Linked DNA regions of Homo sapiens: region 1 is linked to region 2. The links come from fine-mapping of genetic effects on gene expression. A gene starts in region 2. The other region holds a variant in brackets. All regions are shown on one strand. Distances are between the middles of the regions.

What was found. PIP is the estimated chance that this variant, and not a neighbour inherited with it, causes the effect. A credible set is the group of variants that fine-mapping cannot tell apart.
Region 1: its variant is the best candidate, but not a certain one, in a credible set for the expression of CARMAL in spinal cord (GTEx, PIP 0.67).

The regions. Positions count from the first base shown.
Region 1 is chr15:89,076,217-89,081,591 of GRCh38, reverse strand. All of the region lies in intron 3 of CARMAL (coronary artery disease region linked MFGE8 regulatory lncRNA), which reads right to left. It also overlaps a transcript of ABHD2 not described here. Among named protein-coding and RNA genes, the nearest start is that of ABHD2, 9.6 kb to the left of the region's middle. The variant A/T (reference allele first, on the strand shown) is at 2,180.
Region 2 is chr15:89,038,327-89,043,701 of GRCh38, reverse strand. It overlaps CARMAL (coronary artery disease region linked MFGE8 regulatory lncRNA), which reads right to left and starts at 2,704. Exons shown (of 4, transcript NR_183882.1): 1 at 2,402-2,704. It also overlaps a transcript of ABHD2 not described here.

The sequences.
Region 1 (5,375 bases), 38 kb before region 2:
CCCGGCCAACTATTACATTTTTAAATATGACATTTTAAATTTATGTTTTTAAATGTTCTTCCATGTGCTATTCTATAATCATCTCTTGTATCACCCACAATGCAGACGTGGCATTTAAGTTACATTTGATTTGTATGCCAGGGTTCATAGCAGCATTATTCATAATGGCCAAAAGGGGGAAACAACCCAAATGTCCATTGATGGATGAAGGGATAAATAAAATTGGTAAGTACAAGTAATGGAATACTATTCAGCTTTCACAGGGATGAAATTGGCCGGTGCAGTGGCTCATGCTTGTAATCCCAGCATTTTGGGAGGCAGAGGCAAGAGGATTGCTTGAGCCCAAGAGTTCAAGACCAGCCTGGGCAATACAGTGAGATCCTGTCTCTACAAAAAAGTAAAAAAAAAAAAAAAAAAAAAAAAAATTAGCTGGGCATGGTGGCGTGCTCCTGTAGTCCCATCTACTTGGGAGGCTGAGGTAGGAGGATCATTTGAGCCCAGGAGGTTGAGGTTGCAGTGAACTGTGATTGTGCCACTGTACTCCAGCCAGGGAGACAGAGTGAGACCCTGTCTCAAGAAAAAAAAAAAAAGGAATGAAATTCTGACAATTCTGACACATGCTGCAATATGGATGATACTTGAAGACATTATGTAAAGTGAAATTAGCCAATCACAAGAGGACAAATACTGTATGATTCCACTTACATGAGGTGCCTAGAAGAGTAAAATTTGGGCCAGGTGTGGTGGCTCACGCCTGTAATCTCAACTATTTGGGAGGCTGAGGCAGGAGAATCACTTGAACCTGGGAGTGAGAGGCTGCAATGAGTTGAGATTGGGCCACTGCACTCCAGCCTGGGCGACAGAGTGAGACTCCATCTTAAAAAAAAAAAAAAAAAAGTCTCCTTTTCTCTTTACCTTATCTCTTTGTTAAGCTGTCAGCCTGCTATGGTATCACATACAGCCGTTAGCCTCCACCAACTGCTGGCTGATTGTTCTTTCGTGTTTGATAATGCCCTGGAGGCATGAATTGCTCCTGTCTTGTACATTAAATTTGGGCCCCTTTGCAAGGGTAATCTTTCAGGTCAGTCTTTGAGACTTATTCTAACACCAAGGGGGCTCTTCTTAGCTGATGCTTTCCCTGGTTCTCTCCAGAACACTTCTAGCTGGTCTACAGTTCAGCTTGTTGCTTGAATGGAGTTCCCAGGCTCCTCTTAATTGCTTACCAACAAAATCTTCATTGTTTTTGAGAACACCCTTACACTTGAACTTTCCCACATTGTGTTCTACATAAAGTGTTTTCTTGGGAAGAACTTCAGAGGTCTCTGTATCTACCGCCTTCCTCTCCCCTTGGGCAAAACCTCTGCACCACTGCTCCGGAGCTTGGGGAACTCAGGCAGAGACAGTGGCCCCCTTATCTCAGGATGACAATCCGGCTTTATGAGCAGAGTGCTGGGCAGAGCAGTAGCTTTTGCTCTTCTGCTCTTGCCTTTCCTGTAAAGAATCTCTGCCCCATGAGCAAGCTGAGGCCAGGGTAACACAGGCTCCAGTATTCTCAGCCTGCCATGGCCGAGGTGGAGTTTCTGCCCTATGATTGGGGGCTAGGTTTACGAAGTGAGCCCCAGATTTATCAGCCAGTCTTGTCCAAAGTAGAGCTTTTGCAGCATGAAGCTGGAGGGTATGAGAAATGCTGGCAGCCGCCCTCCCAGCGAGATATAGTAGCCCTCAACTGAGAGCTGGGGAAAGAGGTAGCCCGTGTTCTCGGCTTCACCTACTTAGAGTAACTTTTCCATCATGCTGAGCTAGAAGAAGGAGGGAGGAAGTCTTTTGTGGTACAAATGTTATTGACTCTCACTGTTCTTACTGAGACTTAGTACATTTTCTTGAATAAAAGTTTATTAATTTGCCGCATCCCCATAAAACAATTTCCAAAGGCTTTAAATAGTTGTGGCTTTGATCTTAAGCAATTTCCAGAGATTATGGTCATTTCACTGGGGAGAGGGTTCATGGAGCTCCTCATGCTGCCATTCAGAAGTCATGGAAACCAAAATGTGTCTGAGACAGATCTCTATCCATGTAGAGGTTTATTTTGCCATGTAGAGGTTTATTTTGCCATGTAGAGGTTTATTTTGCCATGTAGAAGTTTGTTTTATTTCTTCTTCTGGGAGAAAGAAACACAAGT[A/T]ACCATAGTTCTTCTGGGAGAAAGAAACACAAGTTACCATAGGATCTGTGGCCTGTGCTTTTTCCAAAAAGGGTTTTTCAGGACTTTAGAGAGGAAAGGAAAAAAAGAAGGAAGGGTAAGCAATGAGACAGGAGATTACTTTCCTATGCGGCTTTGATTAGCACTCGCTGAATCTACATTTTACATGTGAAAGGGGCGGGTAGAGGAACAGTCAATTATGTTAGTTTTCTTGCTTGGTAAATCTACATTTTACATAAAATATGTAAACACAGAGTAGAGGAAGAAATCTAATATGCATTTGTCTTGGGTGGGCAGAGGAATTATTTCTAGTCTGGTCTTTGTCTCATACCTGTGAAGATAAGATGTTAATCTACATAGTTGGCCAGGCACAGTGACTCATGCCTGTAATCCCAGCACTTTGGGAGGCTGAGGCAGGTGGATCACTTGAGGTCAGGAGTTCGAGATGAGCCTGGGCAACATGGTGAAATGCCCATGTCTATTAAAAGTACAAAAAATTAGCCAGGCTTGGTGGCAGGCACCTGGAGTCCCAGTTATTCAGGAGGCTGAGACAGGAGAATTGCTTGAATCTGGGAGGCAGAGGTTGTAGTGAGCCAAGATCGTGCCACTGCACTCCAGCCTGGATGACAAGACTCTGTCTCACAAGAAAAAAAAAAAGAAAAAAAAAAAGCCTACATTGTCAGGGTGAGATTCAACAGAACTGTGTTTTAGGGGTAGTTCATCAGGAGGATATGTATTCTGAAAGATTTGGGACCCACAAAAAATTTCCTTGTAAGCAATTGTGAGGAAGGCCACCTGGGGAGATAGATGGCCTTCCGTTATCACATACTCATTCCTAACTAAGTACCCAGAGAAAAACATGGACAATAACGTTCATAATAGCGCCATTTGTAATAGCTTAAGGTTGTAAACAGTCCAAATATCCAAATGCAACGATCTGTTTAGGAGCAAAAGGAAGGCAGTTTTTGTGTGACTCAGTTTCCAAGCTTAATTTTTCCCTTTGACATAGTGAGTTTGGGGTCCCAAGGCTTTATTTTCTTTTCACAGTTATATGCCCTATCATGATGATTTATTATGAAGCCATATTTTAGTCCAATTAATCTGGAGGCAATGTTCAGAGAAAATTAGAAATAGGAGAGGTTGGAGCCAGGTAGAAGAGATAACAGGTTATTGCATTAGTTTCAATGTAAGTTGTTAAGGGCCTGAACTAGACAGTGGAAGTAAAAAGAAAAGAATAACAGTGATGTGAGCATAGATTCTTCAGGACTTCCCCACAGATTAAATATGGGGTGCAAGAAAGAGAGAAGGGTCAGAGATGATCCCAAGGTGGTTCTAATATGGGAGAGAAAGGTAAATTTACTTTAGATCTGTTGAGATTTTGGTGACACATATATTCAAGGGAAAGGGAAAATATGACATCATTACTAGAAAGGGAGCATTGGTAAGCAGGGGAGAGGCTGAGTTTTGTAGACAAGGGGATTTGGAGTCATAGTTTCTAGGTAACACGTTGCAAAAGCTGTCCACAGTACAAGATAATGGAAGTCATAGGCATAGACAAGTTTCAGAGAGAAAGAAAAGCAGACCAGGTTAACTTGAACTTGGGAGAATGAAACTTGGCAGGAGGAGAAAAACAGTGAAGGAGCTTGAGAAGTTACCACCACAAAGGGAGGAAGGGTTGACAGCTAACATTTATAAAACCCTTACTAAGAGACAAGCACGATTCTAAGAGTTTTAGATTTTTTTAAATATTTAATCCTCCCAATAACTCCACAGGGTGAATATGATTATGCCTGTTTTACAGATTAAGAAACTGAGGCCAGAGAGGTAAAATAATGTGCTTGAGGTCACAAAAGTGATATTAAGTAAACCCAAAATTAAAACCTTGGCAACATGAGCATGCATAATTCTCATTCTTAAGTATGTACCCAAAGAAACACACGGACAATAACATTCACAATAGCACCATTCGTAATAGCTTAAGATTGTAAACTGTCCAAATGTCCATCAACACTAGAATGGATAAACAGATTGTAGAACATTCATATTCAATGGAATACTATGCAGCATTGGGAATGAACAAATCATTACGATAAGCATGCCACCAGCATAAAGGTGAGTGAAAGAAGCCAGTCATCCAAGAAATGTATGCTATGATTTTATTTATATAAAGTTCAAAAAGAGGTAACACATGGCTGTGGTGTGAAAAAGTCACCTGACCTTTGTGAGGTGGTAGAGACTGGGAAAGGGCCTGAGAGGGGGTTCTTGGGTGCCAGTGATGCCCTGTTCCTGAGCTGGGTGGTGGTTACACAGGTGTGTTCACTTATGAAAATTCATCAAGCTGCTCACTTATGATTCATGTACTTTTCTGTGTGTAGGTAACAAACAAAAAGTACTAAAAAACAAGAAAGCAAAATAGAACCAGGGCATCTGATTTGAGGACCTACCCCCTTAACCACAGAGTGATCCAGAGAACAAGGGTCTTTTCTCCTCTTCCACAAAGAAAAATGTGGAAGGGGACCTTATAAAATTATAAATTTAAAAGAAATTGAAGAGATAGATCAACCAAATGGAATGTATGGGTCTTATTAGCATCCAAATGAAAACAAACCGTAGCTGGGTATTATGGATCATGCCTGTAATCCTAGCACTTTGGAAGGCTGGGGCAAGTGGATCACTTGAGCCCAGGAGTTTGAGACTGGCCTGGGCAACATGGTGAGACCTCATCTCTACAAAAATACAAAAAAGTAGCTGGACATGGTGGCATGCACCTGTAGTCCCAGCTACTTGGGAGGCTGAGGTGGGAAGATCACCTGAGCCCAGGAGGTAGAGGCTGCAATGGGTCATGATCGCACCACTGCACTCCAGCCTGGGTAACAGAGCAAGATCCTGTCTCAAAAAGAAACGAAACAAAACAAAACAAAAATTAAACTGTAAAAGACAATAACAAAACAATTGGGGAATGAATATTAATTATATTATGATTATGTTTTATAAAAAGTCCTTCTATTTCAGAGATACATATTGACATACTGATGGATGAAAGAATGTCTGGCATTTGCTCCACAAGAATGAGGATACGAGTGTTGAGATGAAAGATTGGCCATGGATTGATCATTGCTGAAGGTGGATGATATCTACCTGGACTTCACTGTACTTTGTCTATTTGTTTGAGTATTTT
Region 2 (5,375 bases):
TCTCCTCCTCCTCCCCCTCCTCCTTCTCCTCCTCCCTCTCCTCCTCCTCCTTCTCCTTCCTCCTCCTCCTCCTCCTTCCGCCTCCTCGTCTCCTCCTCCTCTCCTCCTCCTTCTTCCTCTTCTTCTTTTCTTCCTCTTCCTCTCCTCCTCCTTCCTCTTTCCCTTCCCCTCCTCCCTCCTCTTCCTCCTTCCTCTTTCTTTTCCTCCCCCTCCCCCTTCTTCCTCTCCTTCTCCTTCTCCTTCTCCTCCTCCTCCTTCTTCTTCTTCTTTAAAAAAGAGATAGGGTCTTGATCTGTTGCCCAGGCTGAAGTGCAGTGGCACAAAGATAGCTCACCCTAACCTTGAATTCCTGGGCTAAAGTAATCCTCCCACCTCAGCCTCCTCAGTAGCTGGGACTACAGGCATGAGCCACCATGCCCAGCCCAAACCCCAGCTCTTCTGCTGAAAGCAAACTTGCCCCCCTAGGGTGCTAGAAGAGCTCAGGCAGGGTTGGCTGCCACCTTCTGAGGGACTGTATGTCTTACTTCTGTCTGTCTTCTCCACAGCCCTGTTGGTTACCTTTTCCTAGCTACTCCCATGGTTTTGGGAAGAACATTTGTCAGAATGGTGAAGGGAGGGCCCCTGGGGCTCATCCCAGTGGTCAGCATAGGCATCAAAGCAGATTACGGCAAGCCGTGGAATATGTACTAGTGGAGGAAACAAATGGTGCTGGGCAAATTAAGAAAGAAGGTATAGGCCGGGCGCCGTGGCTTATGCCTGTAATACCAGCACTTTGGGAAGTTGAGGCGGGTGGATCACTTGAGGCCAGGAGCTTGAGGCCAGCCTGGCCAACACAGTGAAACCTTACCTCTACTAAAAATGCAAAAAAAGAAAAAAAGAAAAAAAAAATTAGCCAGGCTTTGTGGCACACACCTGTAGTCCCAGCTACTTGGGAGGCTGAGGCATGAGAGTCACTTGAACCCGGGAGGCAGAGGCTAGAGTGAGCCAAGATCACCCCACTGTACTCCAGTCTGGGCGACAGAGCAAGACTCTGTCTCGAAAAAGAAAAGAAAAAACAAAAAGTCTCCAAAATAAATAAATAAATAAATAAATAAATAAATAAATAAATAAATAAGAAAGAAAGAAAGAAAAGGAAATAAAAAAGAAAGAGAGAAGGTATAAATTTCCAGGTGGGAAGTAACCAGGACAGGAAATCTTCATGGAGGAGGTGGCACTCGGTGTAAGGATTTAGAAGAGATAAGACGGAGGGAAGGCAGGAATGATGGTCTAATTGGGGAGCAGAGAGGGTGTACTTGGAGCATGTGCTTCAATAAGAAAAGTGTCTCAGTTTTTAAGCTAATGTTGACCTGGTAAAAAGATGTTTGAGGGAGTAGGGTAAAAGCAAGACTATAGTGTTATGGAGAAGGTGGCTGAAATCCTCAATAGTGTCACTGAGTGGTCCTAAGCAGGCTCTGGATCCAGGCTGCCAGGGTTCAAATCCTGGCTATGCTATGCAGCTGCTGCATGTTCTTCAGCAGGTTACAAAACCCCTCTGTCCCTTGAGTCCTCAGCTATGATGTGGAGACAATAATGTACTGGTGTCCAAAAGTGGCTATGAGGATAAGTTTAGAAGTTTAGAAGTATAAAGGGCTTAGATGAGTGCTCGGCACATAGTAATGCTCACTGTATGTTTAGCAATAATGGTGATGGTGATGGATAAGATAAAGATGGACGCCCCTCCCAACCAAACACCCGGGTGACCTCTGGTTCCGACCCCCTCCAGGCCCTCCTGCCCTGATGTTTGACCTCAGCTATGCCTCTGATTCCAGGTAGGGGAAGATGCTTATGCCCTTCCAGGTCTCAGGTTGCTTATTCTGTGACCATCTGACCCCTAGCAATGCTGTCTCAGCCCCTCCAGGCCAGGTCTGGGTGCCGTGGGCCCTGCTGATGAGGTGGTGTGTCATGCCTGGTCAGCAGGGCAGACCGAGGGGCAGAGCTGCTTTCCCCAGCAGGGGAATAGAGTTGCGCCTTGCCTCAACTCTGCCTCTCACTGGCCTCAGTTTTCTTCTTAGTGGACTCCTAGGACATCTACCCAGATGCCCGGACAGAGGCACAGGCTTGGCTCAGGTCTTCCAGCCAATGAATAGCCAAGGCCGGATTCACACTAGGACAGTCTGGCTTTTAACTGCTGCACTAAGAGTCACTGCAGTAGATCCAGACATCAAGGAAGGTTCCCAGAGTCCTGGTGCCTCTGTGCCCTTAGGCGGGTGAATACTGATGGGTGGAGACAGAATTGTTACAAATATATAATAAATAAGTTATAGTAAAGCAGAATTCAATCCGAAACTCAGAAGAAAAGCAGTCCCCTCCATTCTATTGCAAACCACCTCTAAACTTCGTGGCTTAAAACCACAAAACTCACATTTGCTCATGATTCTGCAACGTGGGCAGAGCTCGGCAGCGGCAGTTCATCTCTGTTCCACATGGCATCAGCTGAGGCTGCTCCACCGAGGCTGCAGGATCCAGTTCCAGAATGGCACACTCACGTCACTGGAAGTTGATGCTGGCTGGCAGCCAGGGCCTCCTCTTGGCCTCCTTACACAGTTAAGTTAAACTTCTGCAGCACAATAGTTGGGTTCCAAGTGGGAGCATCCCAGGAGGAAGCATCCCAGGCCAGGGGTAGGCACTTTTCAAGCCTCTGCTGGCATCTTCTTGCTAGAGCCCTATTGGCCAAAGCTTGTCAGCTGACCAAGCCCAGAGTCAGTGTGGGAGGAGACTACACACAGTGGTGAATACTGGGAGCTGTGGTTTACCGAAGTGTCTGTCTGTCTGAACTTCTTTTTCCTAAGGCTCGCTTTGGTGCTCCTCACATTCTCCCATCAGCCTCCTCTGAAACCTGGTTCCATCCAGTATCCTCTCTCTCACCTCGTCCATTGCTCCTTCTTCAACGAATCCCTCCTTTCAGCCAACAGACCCACTCAAGCCACAGCTATCCCCGAACAGCTCCGTTCAGCCCTGCGTCTCCCTCAGGGTGCCGTCCTGTCTCCCTCCATTCCTTTGCTTCCAAAACCCTTCAAATAGCTGCTGAATGCTGGAAGCAGAAAAAGTTCCCTAAAGCCAATTTGCTACATTTATGAAATATTCTAGGCTGGGCACTGTGTCTCACGCCTGTAATCCCAACACTTTGGGAGGCCAAGGCGGGCGGATCACAAGGTCAAGAGATCAAGACCACCCTGACCAACATGGTGAAACCCCGCCTCTCCTAAAAATACAAAAATTATCTGGGTGTGGTGGCACGCACCTGTAGTCCCAGCTTCTTGGGAGGCTGAGGCAGGAGAATCGCTTGAATCCAGGAGGCAGAGGTTGTAGTGAGCCAAGATCGTGCCACTGCACTCCAGCCCGGCAACAGAGCCAGACTCTGCCTCAAAAAAAAAAAAAAAAAAAAAGTGAAATATTCTGATTTGTCCATTCTAAAGAATTTTTTCTTTAATGTTTTCAATGAATACGAATATATACTGTTAATGAATGCATTAGTAAATATATTCAAGAATATACTCTTATGAATATAAATAAAAATCTATTGATAAGAAGTCTAAACTACTCGATGACTCTTAGGTTCCAGCAAGCCCATAGTCTGTGAATAGATTCACAAGTGGAATATATTCATATTCACTGAGAAAAACTTTCTTCAAAATTTTTGACAAATTTGCCAAAATTGGCACACATCTCTTAATTAAAAAATTTCATCCCTCCTTTCTTCCATCCATTCATCCATCCAACGGATATTTATTTGAATGCCATGACATGCTCAGCACTGGGGCATAGTGTGGTTGAACACAGACCCAGCCCCGGCCCTCATAGAGTTTACAGTCTAGTAGGGGAGACAGTTACTCATTAAGTGATCATTTCAAACAAACCCTGAAACTGGCCGGGTGCCATGACTCATGCCTGTAATCCCAGCACTTTTGGAGGCCAAGATGAGAGGATCACTTGAGGTCAGGAGTTCGAGACCAGCCTGGCCAACACGGTGAAACCCCGTCTCTACTAAAAATACAAAAATCAGCTGGGTGTGGTGGCGGGTGCCTGTAATCCCAGCTACTCCGGAGGCTGAGGCAGGAAAACTGCTTGAACCCAGGAGGTGGAAGTTGCAGCGAGCTGAGATCGCGCCACTGCACTCCAGCCTGGGTGACAGAGTGAGACTCTGTCTCAATTAAAAAAAAAAAAAGAACACTGAAATTGCAATCTTGACCAGTGCTACCATACCTTTTCCAGCTCATGACACGCCCTTTGGCACGCACTGCTTTGGAATTTTGATCATACTGCTCCCTTTGCTGGCAATGCTCTTTCCCGCTTTCCCTGCTTGGCATATGCAGCTTAATTTTAAGACCCCAGTCAACAGCGCTCACTGTGGCTCTGGCTCCTATCCCCAGGAAAGATGAACTGCTCCATTATTTATGTTCTAGCAGCACTTGGCATAAACTTCTAGCAGTGAACATATCAAACCATAATATATTATATCTGTGTCTCTTCTATTAGATCGTAAGTGCAATAGGGTCAAGAATTCTGTCTTCAGAGGCTTGGGTGGAGTGAGTGTGCATGTTTAAAAAGAGAGAAGTTTACAAAAATGTTTAAAAAGAAAGAAGTCGGGGGGTGGGGGGCGGGTGGGCAGGCGCAGTGGCTCACGCCTGTAATCCCAGCACTTTGGGAGGCAGAGGGGGCCAGATAGCTTGAGCTGAGTTTAAGACCAGCCTGGGCAACATGGTGAAATCCCATCTCTACAAAAACATACAAAAAAAAAAAAAAAAAATTAGCTGGCTGTGATGGCAAGCACCTGTAGTCCCAGCTACTCAGGAAGCAAAGGTGGGAGGATTGCTTGAGCCTGGGAGGTCGAGGCTGCAGTGAGCTGTGATCGCCCTTTGCACTCCAGCCTGGGAGACAGAGTGAGACCCTGCCTCAGAAAAAAAGGTATCCTTACCTGACATGGAAAAATTCCTCTGGGCACCCATTAGGGGACAGACACCTCCATTTACACTCATCCTTTTAAAGCCTCTTATAATTTGACCCACAATATAGACATCAAAAATAAGCTTGAGGGAGGCCCAGCAGCCATGGTGGCAGACAGGGCTGGCAGGTAAGGCTCTGGTGGCCACTGACTTGAGGGAGAGCAGCCTGCTGACCTCAGCCAGGGCTGCAGCAGTGGGGCCAGTGCCAGACAAGGTGCTCCAAGGGGCTAGGACCAAGTGCAGTCATCTTTGCCTCTCTGGCATCTAGCAGCATTGACTAGATGCTCACACACTCGAGAAATACGTGTTAAGTGAACGGTCCCTGTGACAATCAAGCAGACTTTTTTCTTTCCGATGACACACCTCCTCTGGCCGCCACTGTCACCCTGCAGA